Homo sapiens: one gene and its partners. The protein of the gene in region 1 purifies or fractionates together with the protein of each later gene. This does not show direct contact. Each region holds a gene or a part of one and is shown on either strand. Other genes may lie near its edges.

What was found. Proteins that work in one complex are often made in the same cells at the same time.
Region 2: the proteins of STMN2 (region 1) and ZER1 purify together in Homo sapiens (co-immunoprecipitation; 2 studies listed by BioGRID and IntAct, with this or other methods). This does not show direct contact.
Region 3: the proteins of STMN2 (region 1) and MTA3 purify together in Homo sapiens (co-immunoprecipitation; 2 studies listed by BioGRID and IntAct, with this or other methods). This does not show direct contact.

Annotation. Positions count from the first base shown.
Region 1 is NC_000008.11:79,635,091-79,642,123, forward strand, and holds part of STMN2 (stathmin-2), read left to right. Parts: exon of another isoform or gene 1-76; intron 77-1,711; coding exon 1,712-1,807; intron 1,808-2,990; exon of another isoform or gene 2,991-3,076; intron 3,077-6,287; coding exon 6,288-6,460; intron 6,461-7,033. UniProt on the Homo sapiens protein: Regulator of microtubule stability. When phosphorylated by MAPK8, stabilizes microtubules and consequently controls neurite length in cortical neurons.
Region 2 is NC_000009.12:128,729,253-128,733,927, reverse strand, and holds the end of ZER1 (protein zer-1 homolog), read left to right. Parts: intron 1-399; coding exon 400-502; intron 503-684; exon of another isoform or gene 685-1,086; intron 1,087-2,533; coding exon 2,534-2,591; 3' UTR 2,592-4,142; downstream 4,143-4,675. UniProt on the Homo sapiens protein: Serves as substrate adapter subunit in the E3 ubiquitin ligase complex ZYG11B-CUL2-Elongin BC. Acts to target substrates bearing N-terminal degrons for proteasomal degradation with the first four residues of substrates being the key recognition elements.
Region 3 is NC_000002.12:42,571,632-42,578,664, reverse strand, and holds part of MTA3 (metastasis-associated protein MTA3), read right to left. Parts: intron 1-7,033. UniProt on the Homo sapiens protein: Acts as a component of the histone deacetylase NuRD complex which participates in the remodeling of chromatin.

The DNA of each region.
Region 1 (7,033 bases):
TAGTTTGCAGATACTTGGCCTGATGACAACTGACAGTGATGAGATACTCACCAAGTTTACCAGGGCAGGAGGCTTCCTAGAGAAAAAATGAGAAAATGAAATGGGGAAGGGGAGTGAAGGATTGAGGAGGTGACAATCTGGACTCTTGCAACTGCATGGCAAGGTTGGCACACAAGCTGGGTTGCAACGGAGGGAAGGAGATCCTTATCAGATGTAATCAGAGCTCAGATCGAGGGCTTTGGTGTGTGTAGAAAGAGGGAGAGACAAAGAACTTAAAACAGAGCTGCCATTTGACCTTGCAATCCCATTACTTGGTGTATACCCAAAGGAGAATAAATCATTCTATTAAAAAGACACATGTGCTTGTATGTTCATGGCAGCACTATTCACAATAGCTAAGACATGGAATCAAACTAGGTGTCCATCTATGGCAGATTGGATAAAGAAAATGGGGTAAATATAAAGCATGCAATACAACATGGCCATAAGAAAAAATGAAATCATGTCCTTTGCTGCAACATGGATGCAGTTGGGACCCATAATCCTAAGTGAATTAACACAGGAACAGAAAACCAAATACAGCATGTTCTCACTTATAAGTGGGAGCTAAACACTGAGCACACATGGACATAAATATGAGAACAATAAACACTGTGGACTACTAGAGGGGGGAAGGAGAGAGGTTTGTAAAACTACCTATCAGGTGCTATGCTCAATACCTGGGTGATGGGATTTACACCCCAAACATCAGCATCATTTAATATTCCCATGTAAAAAGACTGCACATATACCCCTTGTATCTAAAATAAAACTTGAAATTAAAAAAAAAAGAAAGAAAGAAAGAGGCTGGAAATAGAGGCTCACACCTGTAATCCCAGCACTTTGGGTGGCCAAGGTGGGTGGATTGCTTGAGCCCGGGAATTCAAGACCAGCCTGAGAAACCTGGTGAAACTCTGTCTGTACAAAAAATACAAAAATTATCCAGGCATGGTGGAGCGCACCTGTAGTCCCAGCTAATGGGGAGGCTGAGGGGGGAACATCACTTGAGCCCAGGAGGTGGAGGTTGCAGTGAGCTGGGATCACACCACTGCACTACAGCCTGGGTAACAGAGCAACTCTGTCTCAAAGAGAGAGAGGAAAGAAAAAAGAAAAGATGGACAGATAAGAAAATGCACTTGGAGATTAAGAGAAAGCAGCAACATAGGACCCTGGATAATGTGTTTGCTTAATAACTATCCTGATGAGTTATCTGACTATTCCCAAATGAGTACGTGGCAATTCAGGCTGAACCATCAGAGTAGCCCTCCGGAATCTTACTTATGTACAATAGACCTGCATGCACATTTACTAGAATGAGCCTCTCTCTCTGGTAATCATGTCTGCTTCCACTAATTCCATCTGTTTCCTCTCTCTCCCTCCTATCCTGCTAGATCTTAATTCCTTCGACCTTCCTTTGTTTTTCTAACTCCCTTTCTTTCTCTTGTTATTTAACCTGCTATACTATGCAATTGATCTCCTCTGCACTAAGGAACATGCACTTCAGAATTCTGTTGACATCTTGCATTCCTTTATATTTAGTGAAAGAATGCAAAGGAGTCTACCTGGCAATATTCACTCTGCAGGAGGCAATAATTATTATTCAAATTAAAGGAAGCAGTAAAGAGAAATTCAGAAAAAATGAAATATACTAATCTTCAGCTTTTCATTTCAGCCTACAAGGAAAAAATGAAGGAGCTGTCCATGCTGTCACTGATCTGCTCTTGCTTTTACCCGGAACCTCGCAACATCAACATCTATACTTACGATGGTGAGTAACCTAGGATAGACATACCCCTGCTAGCTAGATCATTTGGAAAGGTTGACATATATTTGTTTCTTACAGCTCCTGATATAATTACATCAATATTTTGTAGCTCTCACTATTGACTTGCCGTGTCTAGCTATTATGTCCAATTGATTACCTATTGCTGAAAACAGTTTGAATTTGGTGCTAATAACAACACATCAATGTCTGTTAAGAAATGTGGATGGATTCTTATTAACAGCCACATCCAGCATATCAACATCCACAATATGTCTAAGGTCTTTCTTTGCAAATAATTTAATAGGCTAAGCCATAATTGGAGTAGATCATAATTTGTAAGAAAATGCTTTATACTTAGAAAACTCAAGAGAAAGAATCAACAACCATAATTGTTTTTGCTTTATTGTAGTCTTTATAAAGTTTCTATACTTTGTATATACATGTCAACCAGCTAATGATAATAATAATTGGCTCAATAAATAAAACTGACTTACGACTGAGGCCCTAGATAAAGAGGGTCTGAAAAGAAAAGCCTAAAGAATTAGCATGGCAATTAACATGATTGAGGTGCAACTCTTTAGGTTTGATTTATCCTGATTCATTTTGCTTACTTTGGCTCTGCCACAATCCACATGATCTTGGTCAAATAGATACTTGGATTCTCTAAGTCTCATTTAACTCTAGCATCTTCCTCTTGGAGTTGTTGTGAGGTTTAAACGGTTTAATGTAAGTCAAATATGCAAAACCAAGCCTAGCTCATTATATCACTCTACAATGATAGCTATCATTATCAACATCATCCTTACCTAATTCAGTCAATTTAACTAAAATATTTTATACAGTTCTATGTATCCTAGATATCCCTAAGGCATATTTTACTAACTCTCAGGCTCACAAATATTTTTCTTTTCCATATATGTAAAGAAAGACATTAATGACAAAACAAACTGACCTTGTGGCAGTTAACCCCTTCTGCACCTTTAAAGCCTATTCAAGGACTCAAAGGCATTTACCTTCCAAAGTTATTCTATCGTAGCACAAAAATCATAAATGCTAATTAACTGTTCCATAAGGAAATGTCCTCCATGTGAAAGGAATTCTGTCTCCAAACAAAACATTCATTAGAATGCAGGGCCAATGCCTACTTTGTACAAATTCATTCGGTCAGCAAATAAATTAGACAGACCTTTATTATTTGCTAGATGTAGCTGTGAAGAAGGATCCAGCTATGTTTCTTATGAGACTAATGTCGAACTATGGGTTGTCACTGAGGATCCAGAGTTCCATAGGGCGTAGTCCTCACCTTCAAAGAATTCAGGGCTTAGTAGAAGAGTCTTACACAAATGACTAGAATGTAGAACACAGAGTGGTTAGGACAAAGGAGCCAGGGATGGTTTTTGCTGGGTTAGGGAATGAAAAAAGGGGAAGAAAATATGTGAAGTTATGTGTGAGCTGATTCTTGAAATAAGCTGTTTTTATTTGCCTGCGTTCTCTTATAATCCTTTTCCATAGGCTTCCATAATTTTTATTGAGCTGTATTTAAAGTTGAATAGATAATTCAACATTTCTCGTAAACTGTGCTTCCTAAAAGAGTCCGTAGAGAATTTCAAATTTCTGCAGTCTTTAACTTGACCTGGTATTTCTATGTTAGATAATAACGTGACTTGTTTATTGCAGGCAAACATTATAACAATAAATTATTATTATTGTTTACATTTGTAAGCACTAAGTATATGGCTTGTGCTTTGCATTCAGCATCCTTTATCATTTAATCTTCACAACCACCTTAGAAGGAAGGTACTCTTTTTATTTCCATCTTTTAAATGAGGAAATAAAAGCATAAAGAAGTTAATTAACTTACCTAGTGTCACACAGCTATTAAGAGGGGCTTACTATTTGGATGCAAATATAGGCAGTTCTAATTCCAGAGCCTCTAATCTAAGGCATTTAAAACCCCATCACCTTATCAAATAAGCTGTTTTTATTTGCCCGTGTTCTCTTATAATCCTTATCCATAGGTTTCCATAATTTTTATAAAATTGTATTTAAAATTTAAGTATAATCTTGGATGCCATCAGGAAAATGAAAAACATTTTTACATTTGTGAAGGAAAAAGCCCACATCATTTCCAATATAGTTATTGAGTTAGTATTATCTAGACTATCTATTAGCAGCTAAGGATCTGAGGTCAAGGCCTGCCAGCCTGGCATTTTACTTGACCACAACCTCCATGTGCACTAACCAGGCTGCTAAAAGAACATTAACGGGAACATAACCTGCTGGCTTGGTTGCCACAATTTTAAAAAGACGTTAATAAATTAGAGAGCACTTAGAGGTTAGGAAATAATATGGTGGTAAAGATCTAGAAACAGTGTCATTCTGGGGCACTTGAAGATGTTTAGCCTGGGGGAACAACTTGAAATGGAACATAACTGTTTTCAAATACTTGAAAAATGGTGGTGCACCACAGAGAATGGCCTAATCATGGGTAGCTTCAGACTTCAAACAAGGATCAGTGGGCTAAAACCAGAGAGATGGAGTTTGGGACTCAAAGAATGCTCATCTGAAATTGAGGGCTGACCAGCGAGGTTCTTTTAAAAATCATTGCATTTTACTAAATTGTGAGTTCTGTAATTATAAATGTCCTAGCAGGTGCTAGCTGTCATCTTTTCTATTATAAATTATACTATTTTATGTTATAATTTGTATTATACAGGCTTAAAACATAAGGGTCTGATAATCTGCTTATCTTTAATACATAAGCCACTGATAGAAAATAAGTGGCTAACCATTCTTCAGTTCTTTTTTTAATTGACAAAAATTGTATATGTTTGCGGTGTATGGCATATTTTGAAATATGTATACATTAGAGAATGGCTAAGTGAAGCAAATTCACATATGCATTACCTCACACACCTGTCATTTATTTGTGATGAGAACAAAAAATCTACTCTTTCAGTGATTTTCAAGAATACAGTACATTGTTATTAACAATAGTCAGCATGGTGTACAATAAGTCTTCTGCGGCCGGGCGTGGTGGCTCACGCCTATAATCCCAGCACTTTGGGAGGCCAAGGCTGGCAGATCACGAGGTCAGGAGTTCGAGACCAGCCTGACCAACATGCTGAAACCTTGCCTCTACTAAAAATAGAAAAATTAGCTGAGTGTGGTGGTAAGCGCCTGTAGTCCCAGCTACTCAGGAGGCTGAGGCAGGAGAATTGCTTGAACCTGGGAGGCGGAGGTTGCAGTGAGTCGAGATAGTGCCACTGCACTCCAGCCTGGCAAAAGAGGGAAACTCCGTCTCAATAATAAGTCTCTTGCATTTGTTCTTCCTGTTTAACTGAAATTATGTATTCTTTGATCAACATCTCCCCAGTCTCCACCCCTAACCCCTGGTAACCACAATTCTACTCTGCTTCCGTGAGTTCAACTTTATGAATAGTCCACATGTAAGTGAGATCATGTGGTATTTGTCTTTCTGTGCCTAGCTTATTTCACTTAGCATAGTGTCCTCCAGGTTCACCCATGTTGTCAAAAATGACAGGATTTCCCCCAACTTTTTTAAGGCTGAACAGTATTCCATGTGTATGTGTATAAATTAGATTAGTAGATGTTGCCACTCCCTCCTCCACCACAGTGGCTCTATCCCTGGCTCCTGGCTCCAGCCGAGTACACTAGAGGAGGATATTCTAAACAGCAACAACACAGGAGCAAAGACATTACAATGGGGTGTTGTCTTATTGCCCCCATTAGACTGTAAGCATCTTGAAGACAAGGACCCCCATCACAGAGTGATGTTGTCATCCCTGGAGTGGGCACTGTGCATGATTGATGACTGGAAGCAATGAACATACAGAAGGGCAAAACAGAAATCAGCAGGATGCTTTGCATTTCAGCATTGACTTTGCCAAATATGCCCAACTGTTCAGGGAGTTACATTGGTTCTAACGAAGCTCCTGTGATTCCTAAGCACAGGAATGGTGATAATATATATAATGGTGCATGCATATATACGCATATCTAGATAATGATATCTCATTATATGTGAGAACTGAAGAACTCCGTTATGTTTCTCGTCTAACCAAAAAGGGCCTACAGCTACGATAATTTCCAAACAAATAAATCTGTGCTACTTGATTTTCATGCAAAGCTCATATTTGTTCAAAAGGAAAATAAAGCTTAATTTAAAATCAATTTAGGCTATTTTTATCTAAGTATGCTTACCGTTATTCAACTCCCTGCAGATATTGTCAAATTTCTCAATATGGTAAATATTTATTCTGTTAAAATATATCCATAGTTACACTAAAGACAGAGAGGTCTTATATGTTCTAAACAACATAGAGCAAATGCTCATAAACAGCATTTTATTCCTATCTCCCGGAATAACAACGCTACTTCCAATTGCTGGAATCTAAATTATTAAAATAAACCCATGCTGCAAGCTTTGTATGCTTAACATTCTCAAATGTTCACTTTTCAGATATGGAAGTGAAGCAAATCAACAAACGTGCCTCTGGCCAGGCTTTTGAGCTGATCTTGAAGCCACCATCTCCTATCTCAGAAGCCCCACGAACTTTAGCTTCTCCAAAGAAGAAAGACCTGTCCCTGGAGGAGATCCAGAAGAAACTGGAGGCTGCAGAGGAAAGAAGAAAGGTAACTTTTTCCATAGGTTTTCCTTCTCTCTCTCCCTCCCCTGCTCCTCCCTCTCACACACTCGGGCACACATGCACGCACACACACACACACACACACACACACACACACACACACACACATACAGAGAGCAATGACAGCTGAACCTGTGCCATGCCAACATGTATAGGTTTTCAGTAGACACAGAGCCAGGCTAGTTGGGGTAAAAACTGTAAGATAGATGCTAATTTTAGGCTAGCCAAACCAGAGCTCTCAGAAATCCAAAGAGCTTCAGTGCTCTAGTGCCCCTTCCCGTATATTGAATCCCCTTATTATAAAAGCCTCCCTTCCCTAGACCATCAGGCAGAAGCACTGTAGAGAAAACACAGCCCTGGCGAACTCCAGTGGTGGGGAGGGGAAGAAGTGCTGCTTCCTCCCTCTCAGGATCTGTGTCACCCCCTTTGTCAGGCGTGGTTTTCCTTGGAATTACAAATTACCAGATCTTCCCTCCAAGATCTTTCCTGCCCAGGGTAAGGGCCAAGAGCTTGCCCCTTTCCTCTTCAGAGTCCCACTGCCTGCCCTGGAAGTTGGTCC
Region 2 (4,675 bases), on another chromosome or scaffold:
TCGATCTCCTGACCTCGTGATCCGCCCGTCTCGGCCTCCCAAAGTGCTGGGATTACAGGCGTGAGCCACCGTGCCCGGCCATATATATATATATTTTAAGATTATATATTTTATATATATATATATATAATTTTTTTTTAAAAAAAAGAATGAGCTCTGGAAATAAATGCAGCAACTTCAAACCAAGGAGTCACCTCTTGCCTCCCCTACATGGACGCAGAACTCCCACCCATGGGGCTGGGCCCACGTCTTGCCCCCATTTCTAGCACTGCCCCCACCAAGGGCTGTGCCTTCACACCCCCGACACCAGGATAGTCCTCACAGACAGGGTGGGTTTCTGGGCCTCGGGCTGATAAGAAGACCCATCCTGATCCTCTGCTGTCTGCTCCTATCCCACAGCGGACAAGTACTGCCCTCTGCTGATCAAAGAAGGGGGGATGCCCCTTCTGAGGGACATAATTAAGATGGCGACCGCACGGCAGGAGACCAAGGAAATGGCCCGGTAAGAGACCAGCAGTGTGTTTCTGCCTGGAACCTTGGTTTAGGGGAGTAAGGGCATAGCGGGCGCCCTCTGGAGGTTAGGAATGGCTGAAATTCCCAGGGACAGCTTAGAGTTGAGTATGGAGGTTGACAGTGTATTGATGTCCACCTGGGGCCTCTCCAAATGTCATCTCGACCACATTGTGGCTGGAAATTAGATGACCAAGCTCGGAACGGAGCATCAGGGCCCTCGTTTGTAAGCTTAGTTTTCTTTTATTCCCAACAAATTCCATCCTTTTATCACTGGGTATTAGCAAGTCAGGTCAGAACTATTCATTATTTTTGGCCAAAGACATTCCCACTAAAGAAGGGACACAGTGTGGTAAAATACATTCTAGAGATAAGATGAGGCAGAGTGCGAGTGAGTTTGCTGAATGTGAAGATCACAAACATGGTGGAGTCTCGGCCTTCCGTGGCTCTGTGGCTTTCACTGCAGCATCTAAAATGTCACCGCCTCCAGTTCTCGAGTTGATCAGGACACGAGAGACTCTCAGGGATGCGACGTGTCGAAATCGTCGAACGACCTTGTTTTCTCCAGGATTCATTCTAGAAGGGAGAACAGTCAAGCTGACCCGAGCACACTTTTTCATGGCTCTGTATAGAGCAAAAGTTCACATGGAGGAGGGGCCTGAAACTCAGAGGCTCCTCAGCCAGCCACTTCCTGGGCCAGGGGAGGGAAGTGTCAGCTGGTTCTGCTATTATATCTGGCCAAAGGCGCTACTGGCCAGGCGAAGTGGCTCACACCTGTAATCCTAGCACTTTGGGAGGCTGAGGTGGGTGCATCACTTGAGGTCAGGAGTTCGAGACCTGGCTAACATGGTAAAACCCCGTCTCTACTAAAAATACAAAAATTAGCTCGGCGTGGTGGTACGTGCCTGTAATCCCAGCCACTTGGGAGGCTGAGGCAGGAGAATCACTTGAATCCAGGAGGCAGAGGTTGCAGTGAGCCGAGATGGTGCCACTGCACTCCAGCCTGGTCAACAGAGCGAGACTCTGTCTCAAAAAAATAAAATTTAAAAATAAATGGACGGGGCCCACCCCTAGGTTTTCTTTTCCAGTACATCCGGGAGGTGGGAGGTGGCCCTGGAATTTTCATGGTTAACAAGGATTCCCGGGAAATTTGAGAAGCACTGGGTAAGACTGACCAGTTACCTACCACAGTCACTTTGAACATTTCTCCAAGGCCTGTGATGGGAATCTGAGGCACTGGCCTGTCTGACAGCAAGGAGTAAATGACCCTGGACAATGCTTAGGAGAAGGCCCTCGGCCTGTCCACTGACCTCTCTCCCACTCTGGGTATTTGTTTCCTAAAAGGTATTGGGGCATCCCTTTAACACACAGAGGCTGCAGTGAAGCCCCCAAACCACAGGCTTGGTGTTGAATGGGCAAGCTGTCCGGGGTCCAAGGTGACAACCAACAGTGATGGGTGGCAGGGGTCAGGCTGGGGCGGGCGAGACTCGAAATCTGAGCTGGAGTGCTGAGCCCTGGCTGCCACAGGGTAGTGGGGGCCCTTGTGCGAGCACAGCTGCCCCTGCCCGACCCTGGACCTGCCACTGGATCCGGGCCTCTAGGGGAATCTGATGTGCAGTCAGTTTGGGGACCACTGGTGGACTTCTGGAAAGAGAAGGGTCTAGTGTGCAGGGAAAATGAAGAAGAGGTCGCTAAAGAAACTTCCAAAGGGTTTTGGAGGTCGGGCCTGAGCTGATTTGGGGACCCCCTATCCACAGATGCCCTGGGACTGGGGGTGGGAGAAGAGGGGCATGGAAAGGAAGGAAGCGGAGGATGGCTGGTGATGGCATTCACGGCCACAGGTGCCATTCCCTGAGTCCCCTGCACATGCCAGCCACTCTGCCAGCCCCTCTGTCCACATCATTCGGTCAGCATCACCATCACTATGAACACGTGTTTACCCAGCTGCCTAATGATCTCGGAGGGGCTGGGCTCACCCCCACCCAAGCCCACCCTCCAATCCTGTCTCCCCCATTGTCTCCAGCAAGGTGATTGAGCACTGCAGTAACTTTAAAGAGGAGAACATGGACACGTCTAGATAGAGGCCTCCGTCCCCATGGCCGCCACCGCTCTGGACCACAGGCGGGGAGGAAGCATGCTCAAGCAGCCCAGCGGGCGGGCCCCTTCCGAGGGAGCCTCCCACGGAGTGAAGAGACATGGGGGACTTTTGCACAACCGACGCTTTTCCTTAATGTTAGTGAGATATATATATATTATATATATATATTTTTTTTTTGGTTAGGAAGTGTGAAGTTTTGTGTGTATGATTTCTGTGCAAAAACAAAAGCAACACTCCTGAGTCCTTGCAGCTTCCTTGGCCATTCTCAAACCCACTCAGCCTTCATCGCTGACACACACACTCCTACCCCAACCAGACTAAATGCCTATAACGCTGTGAGTGTCCAGTCCTTGTCCAGGAAACTCAGATCCCGGCCTGGCTTCCTTTCATGAGAGGAGCAGGCCTTGGACAGCGTATCGAGCATCCTGACCCACTGCCCCTGCCTGAGAACGCCATCTCGGCTCCCGGGCACAGCTGATGGGGTTTGGGGATTAGAACTTACCCCACTGGGTCTCCCAAAAGCCTTGGTGCTCCCGGCTGTGGGCCATCTGGGGCAGGAAAGTGAGCCATTCCTAGGCTGAGGTCCAGGCAGCCCTGCCCCTGAAGACCCTCTAGGAGCAGGGCACCCAGTGGCCCTGCTGCTGTCCAGCCAGGCCTGCCTGAGGCCACGCTGCTATGGAGGCTGCCTCCTAGTCTCCCACCAGGTCCCAGGCTGTGGAAAGCCCCAGCCCAGGGATGGTCAGAACTCAGGGGCAGATTCCACTGCCCCTTCTGCCAAACACATCCAGAACCTGCCCTCAGCCCTGGAAGCTAGCATCTTCTGGGGCCAGGGGCTTGCTTCCTCGCTCCATAGCCCTCAACTGCCCAGGCGCTCCCACCAGCAGAACTGAGCCTGCCTCCTCCTCCCAGCCTGCCCCGCTGCCCAGAGGACCCCACGCCTCTCAGAGGCAGAGGTCCCATGACAGCCTTTGACCCACAACGGCCACACAGCCGCCTCCAGACCAGCACTCGGACTGCCCTGCAGTGGCCGCTTGGGCCTCCCTGGCGGTCCCGCCCTGCCCTAGGCTTTACCTTGGAAGCCTGAGAGGCGCCGGCTCTCTTGCTCCTCCATCGATGGACACTGCATTGCTTCTCATCGGACACTTGTGGAGCGCAGGGGCCTGGGGAGCAGCGCTAACCCTGGAGGCAGCCTTTGGGTGATGGCTTTTTCTTCCCTTTTCCTCCCGCGGGCCTGTTTTCAGGTGTTCCTAGCATTTCTGCCTCCAGGCAGGACGGCAGGGGTGAGCAGCTTTGGGAGAGACACCTGGCCTTTTTCTCCTGGAGCCTCTCCCTCCCGGCCCTGGGAAGTGGGCGCAGCCCTGTGTTCCCCCAGCTTGGCAGATGGGCTGCATGCGGCGCTCCCTTCCTTCCCACGCTCAGCGGCCCCGGCCAGACCCTGGCAGACTTCACACCTCATTGCTTTACCCCCTGGGGCCTGGGGAAATGTCTGTACTTTGGGAAGTCACAGAAATACATTTTTGTGCAAAATGGAAAACAGAGCGTCTTTTTTTGTGGAGGGGATTGCTAGCCTGGCTTCCAGGCTCTGGAGCAGGGCTTGAGCCACCCCTGGCAGGGGGGCTGCAGTGTAGGTAGTTCTGTGGTAGGGAGGGGTGCGTTTGGTGGGTTAAAGGGCTGCAGGCTGGGGACAGGTGGCAGGGGACTGAGCTGGAGTACCTGTTTCCTATGTGTTCTCTTCACATCCCTGTGCCCACTGAGGACACAGCTGGCAACCAGACCAACAGGGTGCCTGCCTAAGATGGCTCAGCCTGATGGGGGAGACAGATGGCAAATAGAAGATTACAACTCTGTGCCACCATCAGGGAGAAGGCAGCGGAGGAGGTGCCTCCTGCCAGTGGATGGGAGTGGGCAGGCGGATCAGGGAAGCTTGGAGTCCGCTGGGCCACAGTGCTTTGGGGAGAGGGGGAGGAGCCAGCACGATGTCCCCATGTGTCTGGGAGGCTTCTTACAAGAGGACAGAGTGGAGCCAAACCCAGGGAAAAGAAGGAGGTTGCCCAGGCCTGGCCCGAG
Region 3 (7,033 bases), on another chromosome or scaffold:
GCACTAGCTAAGTGTAAAATCACCAAGCCCTCCCCTAAGTATCCCATGTTCCATGGACAGTGAAGCTCTGCAGGTGGGAAGCAGCCATCATGCAGAATAGACCAGGTGACCTGGAAAAGCATTCTCTACACCAAGGAAGTCTATGAATCTCTAAGAGTCAATATTCTAAGCAGTACTTAGTTTACCTTCACATCTAAAAATATTAAAAACCTTGAGTTATGAACACTGAAACTCTCATTTCTTTTTGGCTACAATCTACAATGCAAACAATATTCAGTTAGGTTCTTCCAAAGTATGATGGCTTCAAAAAAAAATTCAGTTATGCTGTCATTTACTGCAGCTGGGGCCCAGGCTCCTGCTCTCCTATTCTCTAGAATTCTGAGAGCTCTCAAGAAGGTCAATCATTCATTACAAAGTTCCCTGTAAAAACACACAGATTATAATAAAATGCTATTGTGATTTCCATTTTCAAACAAGTGTGAGAACAAATTTTCAGAAATTTCTCTGGTCTTACAGATATACTCAAATACAAAGAAGAATATAAGTGCTGCAGTAAATTTGTCAATTTTATGAAGTCCAGCAGCCGTATTTTAGATTAAGAAATAGTCCTGTGGAAACAGTGCCCCTTAAAACTGAAATCATATTAAATTTCTAACCAAAGTGCTTCTATATTTCATAATATTGTGATCAAATACATTCTCCAGAAGTAATGATCCAGCAATCTGCTAAATGAACAGGCCAAAATTTCCATGTAAATAAAATAAAATCTATCAATGACTTCAAATATAAGCTCTTAGTCATTTCTGTCTTCTTGAGATATGCCTTGAAACTGCTGCTTTGGATTTTCAATGTGATTTTTGTCTCTTCTTGAGACATTAAAAATCCAGGCCGGGTGCGGTGGCTCACACCTGTAATCCCAACACTTTGGGAGTCCAAGGTGGGCAGATCACGAGGTCAGGAGTTCTAGACCAGCCTGGCCAACATAGTAAAACCCCATCTCTACCAAAAATACAAAAATTAGCTGGGTGTGGTGGCACACACCTGTAGTCCCAGCTACTCGGGAGGCTGAGGCAGGAGAATCGCTTGAACCTGGGAGGTGGAGGTTGCAGTGAGCCAAGACCACACCACTGCACTCCAGCCTGGGTGACACAGTGACAATCCGTCTCAAAAAAAAAAAAAAATCCAAATCAACAGTTTCAAGGCATATTTTTTTCTGCCTCACTAGTGAGTTCCTCCAATAGGGATGCTATACAAAGCTAATTAAATTCTTATTTAAACCTGCTTAGGGGGCGGGGAGCATAGTTCAAAATAAATAGTCTCTTCTTGACCATGCACTCACTTAGCTACTAGGTAGCTTACAGCTACCATATTCCTCTTCCCCTCTACAAACACACCCTCTCCAGCATTCTTCTGAAGCATGGTTACTCATGGGTCTACAGCCCAGTGCCAGTCTGCAACTGTTAATGGCATTTAATGAAATGAGTACAGGGTTTGAGACTAAGTGCATTACAGCAATTAAGAGTTCATTTTTATATATATATATATATATATATATATATTTTTTTTTTTTTTTAGATGGAGTACCATTCTGTTGCCAGGCTTGAGTGCAGTGGCACAATCTCGGCTCACTGCAACCTCCAACTCCCTGGTTCAAGCGATCCTCCTGCCTCAGCCTCCCAAGTAGCCTTTTTTCCCTAGCTTATCTATCAGAACAAAGTAAGTATTTTCAGTTTAGAGGTGGTTTTGTTTTGGTTTTTTTGTTTGTTTGTTGAGATGGAGTTTCACTGTTGCCCAGGCTGGAGTGCAATGGCACGATCTCAGCTCACTGCAACTTCCGCCTCATGGGTTCAAGCGATTCTCCTGCCTCAGCCTCCCGAGTAGCTGGGATTACAGGCATGCGCCACCATGCCCGGCTAATTTTGCACTTTTAGTAGAGACAGGGTTTCACCACATTGGCCAGGCTAGTCTCAGACTCCTCTCAGGTGATCCACCCACCTCGGCCTCCCGAAGTCCTGGGATTACAGGCGTGAGCCACCATATCTGGCCTTGTTTTGGTTTTTTTCAGAGATGGGGGGTCTTATTATGTTGCACAGGCTGGTCTCAAACCCCCAGGCTCAAGCAATCCTCCTGCCTCAGCCTCTCGAGCAGCTGGGACTACAGGCCTGAGCCACCATGCCTGTCTTCAAGTATTTTTAAATCATTATTTGGATTTTCCCATCATGTTAACAACTTTCCCTACCTAGCCAATTTCACCTCTGATCTTCCCAGGGCCTTTATCTAGAACACTCCTGCGTCCTCTCTTCCCATGGTTCCCTCTTCCTCATCCTTTAGGCCTCAACTTCAATGTCCTGTTCCACCCTACCTAAAGGAAATGACCTGTCATTCTCTATGTCAAGGTTCTTGCCTTCTTAGAAGTTAATACAATTCATTACTATTACTATTTTCTTTATGCCCATCAACTTGTCTTTCCGGGTGTCTCCCTCATTAGAATGTGGACCCTGTATGGGTAGAGACCATGTACATCTTGTTCACATTCTATCTCTGAGCCTAGCATAGTGCCTGGTACAAAACAGGTACTCAATAATATTTGCTTAATGAATTATCTAAAATAAGATGTCTTTTTCACATCCCTTCAGAAATAAAGACCCTATGTAAATATTTCAATTAGCCATTCAAACTACCATTTTGTGAAATTACAAAGAATCCCATCTCTCACAACACAACCCCAGTCCCAGAAACTCGCTATTACATGGATGACTCTGTGCTGACAACAGGTAGGCGGAGGGAGGAGGTGAGGATGGATGAGGGGGGCATTTCAGAAATGAATGGCCATGAAATGATAAAGGAGTGTGAAATAAGCTATGTTCACCTAGATGTGCAACCCAATAATTTAGCTACTATGTGCCTCAAGAAAACAATGCATGATTTAGCTACCTTAAGGTGTAAGGTTCTGTGAGGCTCAAAAGGGTAACAAACGTGAATCCTGGGTTAGGTTTCCAGAGCACCATGCTGTGACATTTCTAAACTTAGCACAGCTACAATTTTACTTTCACTTGTGGGACTATATGGTTGATGTCTGTCTCCACTAGACCTGTTTTTTTTTTATCACCCTTGCATTCTCACTGTCTAAAAGTACCTGGCTGGTAGAAGGTCCTCAATTTTATTTGTAAAATGAATGAATCAAAGCAGTTTGTAAATAGTAAAGCTATGTACACATAAGCATTAACATCAGACATTTCAGAAATTAATTAATTCAACAAGTATTTAGTGAATGCCTTTAACTATGTGCCAGCCACTATTCTAAGGCACTCAGAATGCATAACTGGACAAAACAGAAAAGATCACTGCAGCTGACACTCTAGGAAGACAGGTAATGAAAATAAACACAGTAAGTATATTTGGAGGTGATAAATGATATGGAAAAAAGAGCAAGGGGTGAGGGGTAGGACGGACACAAATAAACGGTCCTCCTAAGGTGGTTGCAGGGAGAAACAGCCAAAAGCCCATTGTGCTTTGTGCCAAGTAAGCAAGGCAGAGCTCCCACCTGCTTTCAGCGAAAGTGGAGGTCAGAGAGGGGCAGTGACAGCCAAAGAATATAGGGTCTCATAGGTCAAGATTTCTATTTCGATGTAATTAACTTTCTAATTAAACTGATATGGTAAATAGTTTAGAGTTGCCTCAATTCTTATACCTTACATCAATAACATAAAAGATCAGAATCACATGCCAACAGTTCCCATCCACGGACTGATCTACACTTGAGGCCATTCTCTTCACTTGGTGGTCTCAAAGACTAAATAATTTTTTTTTAATGCAAAGGCAGTCAGCCTGTAATCCCAGTGCTTTGAGAGACCAAGATGGGGGACTGCTTGAGGCCAGGAGTTCTAGATCAGCCTGGGCAACACAGTAAGACCACGTCTACAAAAAATTTAAACATTAGGCGGGGTGCAGTGGTTCACGCCTGTAATCCCAGCACTTTGGGAGGCCAAGGCGGGTGGATCACTTGATGACCAGCCTGGCCAACATGGTGAAACCCTGTCTTCACTAAAAATACAAAAAAATTAGCTGGGTGTGGTGGCAGGTGCCTGTAATCCCAGCTAATTGGGAGGCTGAGGGAGGAGAATCACTTGAACCTGGGAGGAGGAGGTTGCAGTGAGCCAGGATCTATGCTACTGCACTCCAGCCTGGGTGACAACTAACATAGGCAAATGCAGTAGCACAGTTATTTTGAGAAAAGGAGGCCGGGCATGGTGGCTCACGCCTGTAATCCCAGCACTTTGGGAGGCCGAGGTGGTAGATCACCTGAGGTCGGGAGTTCGAGACCAGCCTGACCAACATGGAGAAACCCCATCTCTGCTAAAAATTAGCCGGGCATGGTGGTGCATGCCTATAATCCCAGCTGCTCAGGAGGCTGAGGCAGGAGAATCGCTTGAACCCAGGAGGCAGAGGTTGTGGTGAGAGGAGGTTGCACCATTGTACTCCAGCCTGGGCAAGAACAGCAAAACTCCGCCTCAGAAAAAAAAAAAAAAAGCCGGGCGCGGTGGCTCACACCTGTAATCCTAGCACTTTGGGAGGCCGAGGCAGGCGGATCACAAGGTCAGGAGATCGAGACCATCCTGGCTAACACGGTGAAACCCCATCTCTACTAATAAATAATAAATAAATAAATAAATAAATAAATAGCCAGGCGTAGTGGCAGGCTCCTGTAGTCCCAGCTACTCGGGAGGCTGAGGCAGGAGAATGGTGTGAACCCAGGAGGCGGAGCTTGCAGTGAGCTGAGATTGCGCCACTGCACTCTAGCCTGGTCGACGGAGCGAGACTCCATCTCAAAAAAGAAAGAAAGAAAGAAAGAAAATGCTGGGGCAGTGGCTCACGCCTGTAATCTCAGCACTTTGGGAGGCCAAGGCGGGTGGATCACCTGAGGTCAGGAGTTTGAGACCAGCCTGGCCAACATGGTGAAACCCTGTCTCTACTAAAAATACAAAAATTAGCCAGGCATGGTGTTGGGCGCCTGTAATCCCAGCTATTCGGGAGGCTGAGGCAGAAGAATTGCTTGAACCCAGGAGACAGAGGTTGCAGTGACCGGAGATCATGCCATTGTACTCCAGCCTGGGCAACAGAGCAAGAATCCATAGCAACAACAACAAAAAATTAGCCAGGTATGGTGGTACATGCCTGTAGTCTCAGCTACTTGGAAAGCTGAGGCAGGAGGACTGCTTTGAGTCCAGGAGTTCAAGGTTACAGTGAGCTATCATCATACCAATGAACTCCAGCCTGGGTGACAGAGTGAGACCCTGTCTCCCTGTCTCTGGAATAAAATAAAAATAATGCAAATTCCCTGGGATATTCCCAAAACAAACCAAGGTCTCAAGGCTCTTCAAACTAAGAATGTCCTAGGTCAGGCTTGCCTTCTCAAGACAAAACTGAACAAGTTACCAGATGGCATTTTGAGGGAAAGGTATTAGCTAGACAGACTCAAAGATTTTAACACTATGAAGTCTCATAAACCACACAACCCTCAGAGAAGTCTGGAGGAAAACAAAGCATCATTAGAAAATCGGAGGAAAACAAAACATCATTAGAAAATCCATGGTCCATGCAGCTTGACTGCTTTCTGGTACCTCCATTATAAATCCTGGCCAGGCGCAGTGGCCCACACCTGTAATCCCAGCACTTTGGGAGGCTGGGGCGGGTGGATCACCTGAGGTCAGGAGTTCAAGGCCAGCCCAACCAACATGGTGAAACTCTGTCTCTAATAAACACACAAAAAACAGCCAGGCATGGTGGCGCATGCCTGTAATCCCAGCTACTTGGGAGGATGAGACAGTAGAATCGCTTGAACCTGGGAGGAAGAGGTTGCAGTGAGCCAAGATTGCGCCATTGCACTCCAGTCTGGGCAACAAGAGTGAAAACTTCATCTCAAAAAACAAAAAACAAAACAAAACAAAAGTTTCTTCTCCTGCAATCATAAGGCTTCTTTTGTCCTAATAAACGACCATCTCGGACAAATCTTAATGTGAAAATTTTAATTGGGCCAAAGGTACAAAGCTACTTTATATTTATTACACCAAAACCATAATTTTTTTTTTTAATTTCGAGACAGTCTGTGTTACCCAGGCTGGAGTGCAGTGATGCAATCACAGCTCACGGCAGCCTTGACCTCCTGGGCCCAAGCAATCTTCCTCAGCCTCCCAAGTAACTGGGACTACAGGCATGTGCCATCATGCCCGGCTATTTTTTTTTGGTAGAGGCAGGGTTTCCCTATGTTACCCAGGCTAGTCTGGAACTCCTGGACTCAAAGGATCCTGAGGCCTCAGCTTCCCAAAATGTTAGGATTACAGGTGTGAGCTACCACAGACAATTTAGCCTAGTCCAGAATTTTTTTTTTGAGACAGTCTCACTCTGTCACCCAGGCTGGAGGGCAGTGGCGCGATCTCGGCTCACTGCAAGCTCCACCCCCCAGGTTCACCCCATTCTCCTGCCCCAGCCTCCCAAGTAGCTGAGACTACAGGTGCACACCACCATGCCCGGCTAATTTTTTTTGTATTTTTAGTAGAGACGGGGTTTCACTATGTTAGCCAGGATGGTCTCGATCTCCTGACCCCGTGATCCGCCTGCCTTGGCCTCCCAAAGTGCTAGGATTACAGGCGTGAGCCACCGTGCCCAGCCAGCCTAGTCCAGAATTTTACAAATTCCCTTCAATTTTTTTTTTTTTTTGAGACGGAGTTTCACTCTTGTTGCCCAGGCTGGAGTGCAATGGCGTGATCTTGGCTCACTGCCACCTATGCCTCCCAGGTTCAAGCAATTCTCCTGCCTCAGCCTCCCAAGTGGCTGGGATTACAGGCATGCACCAACACACTCAGCTAATTTTGTATTTTTAGTAGAGATGGGGTTTCTCCATGTTGGTCAGGCTGGTCTCAAACTCCCAACCTCAGGTGATCCGCCCGCCTCGACCTCCCAAAGTGCTGGGATTACAGGCGTGAGCCACCGCACCCGCCCAGCCAATTCCTTTCAATATTATGTTCCCTAGCTT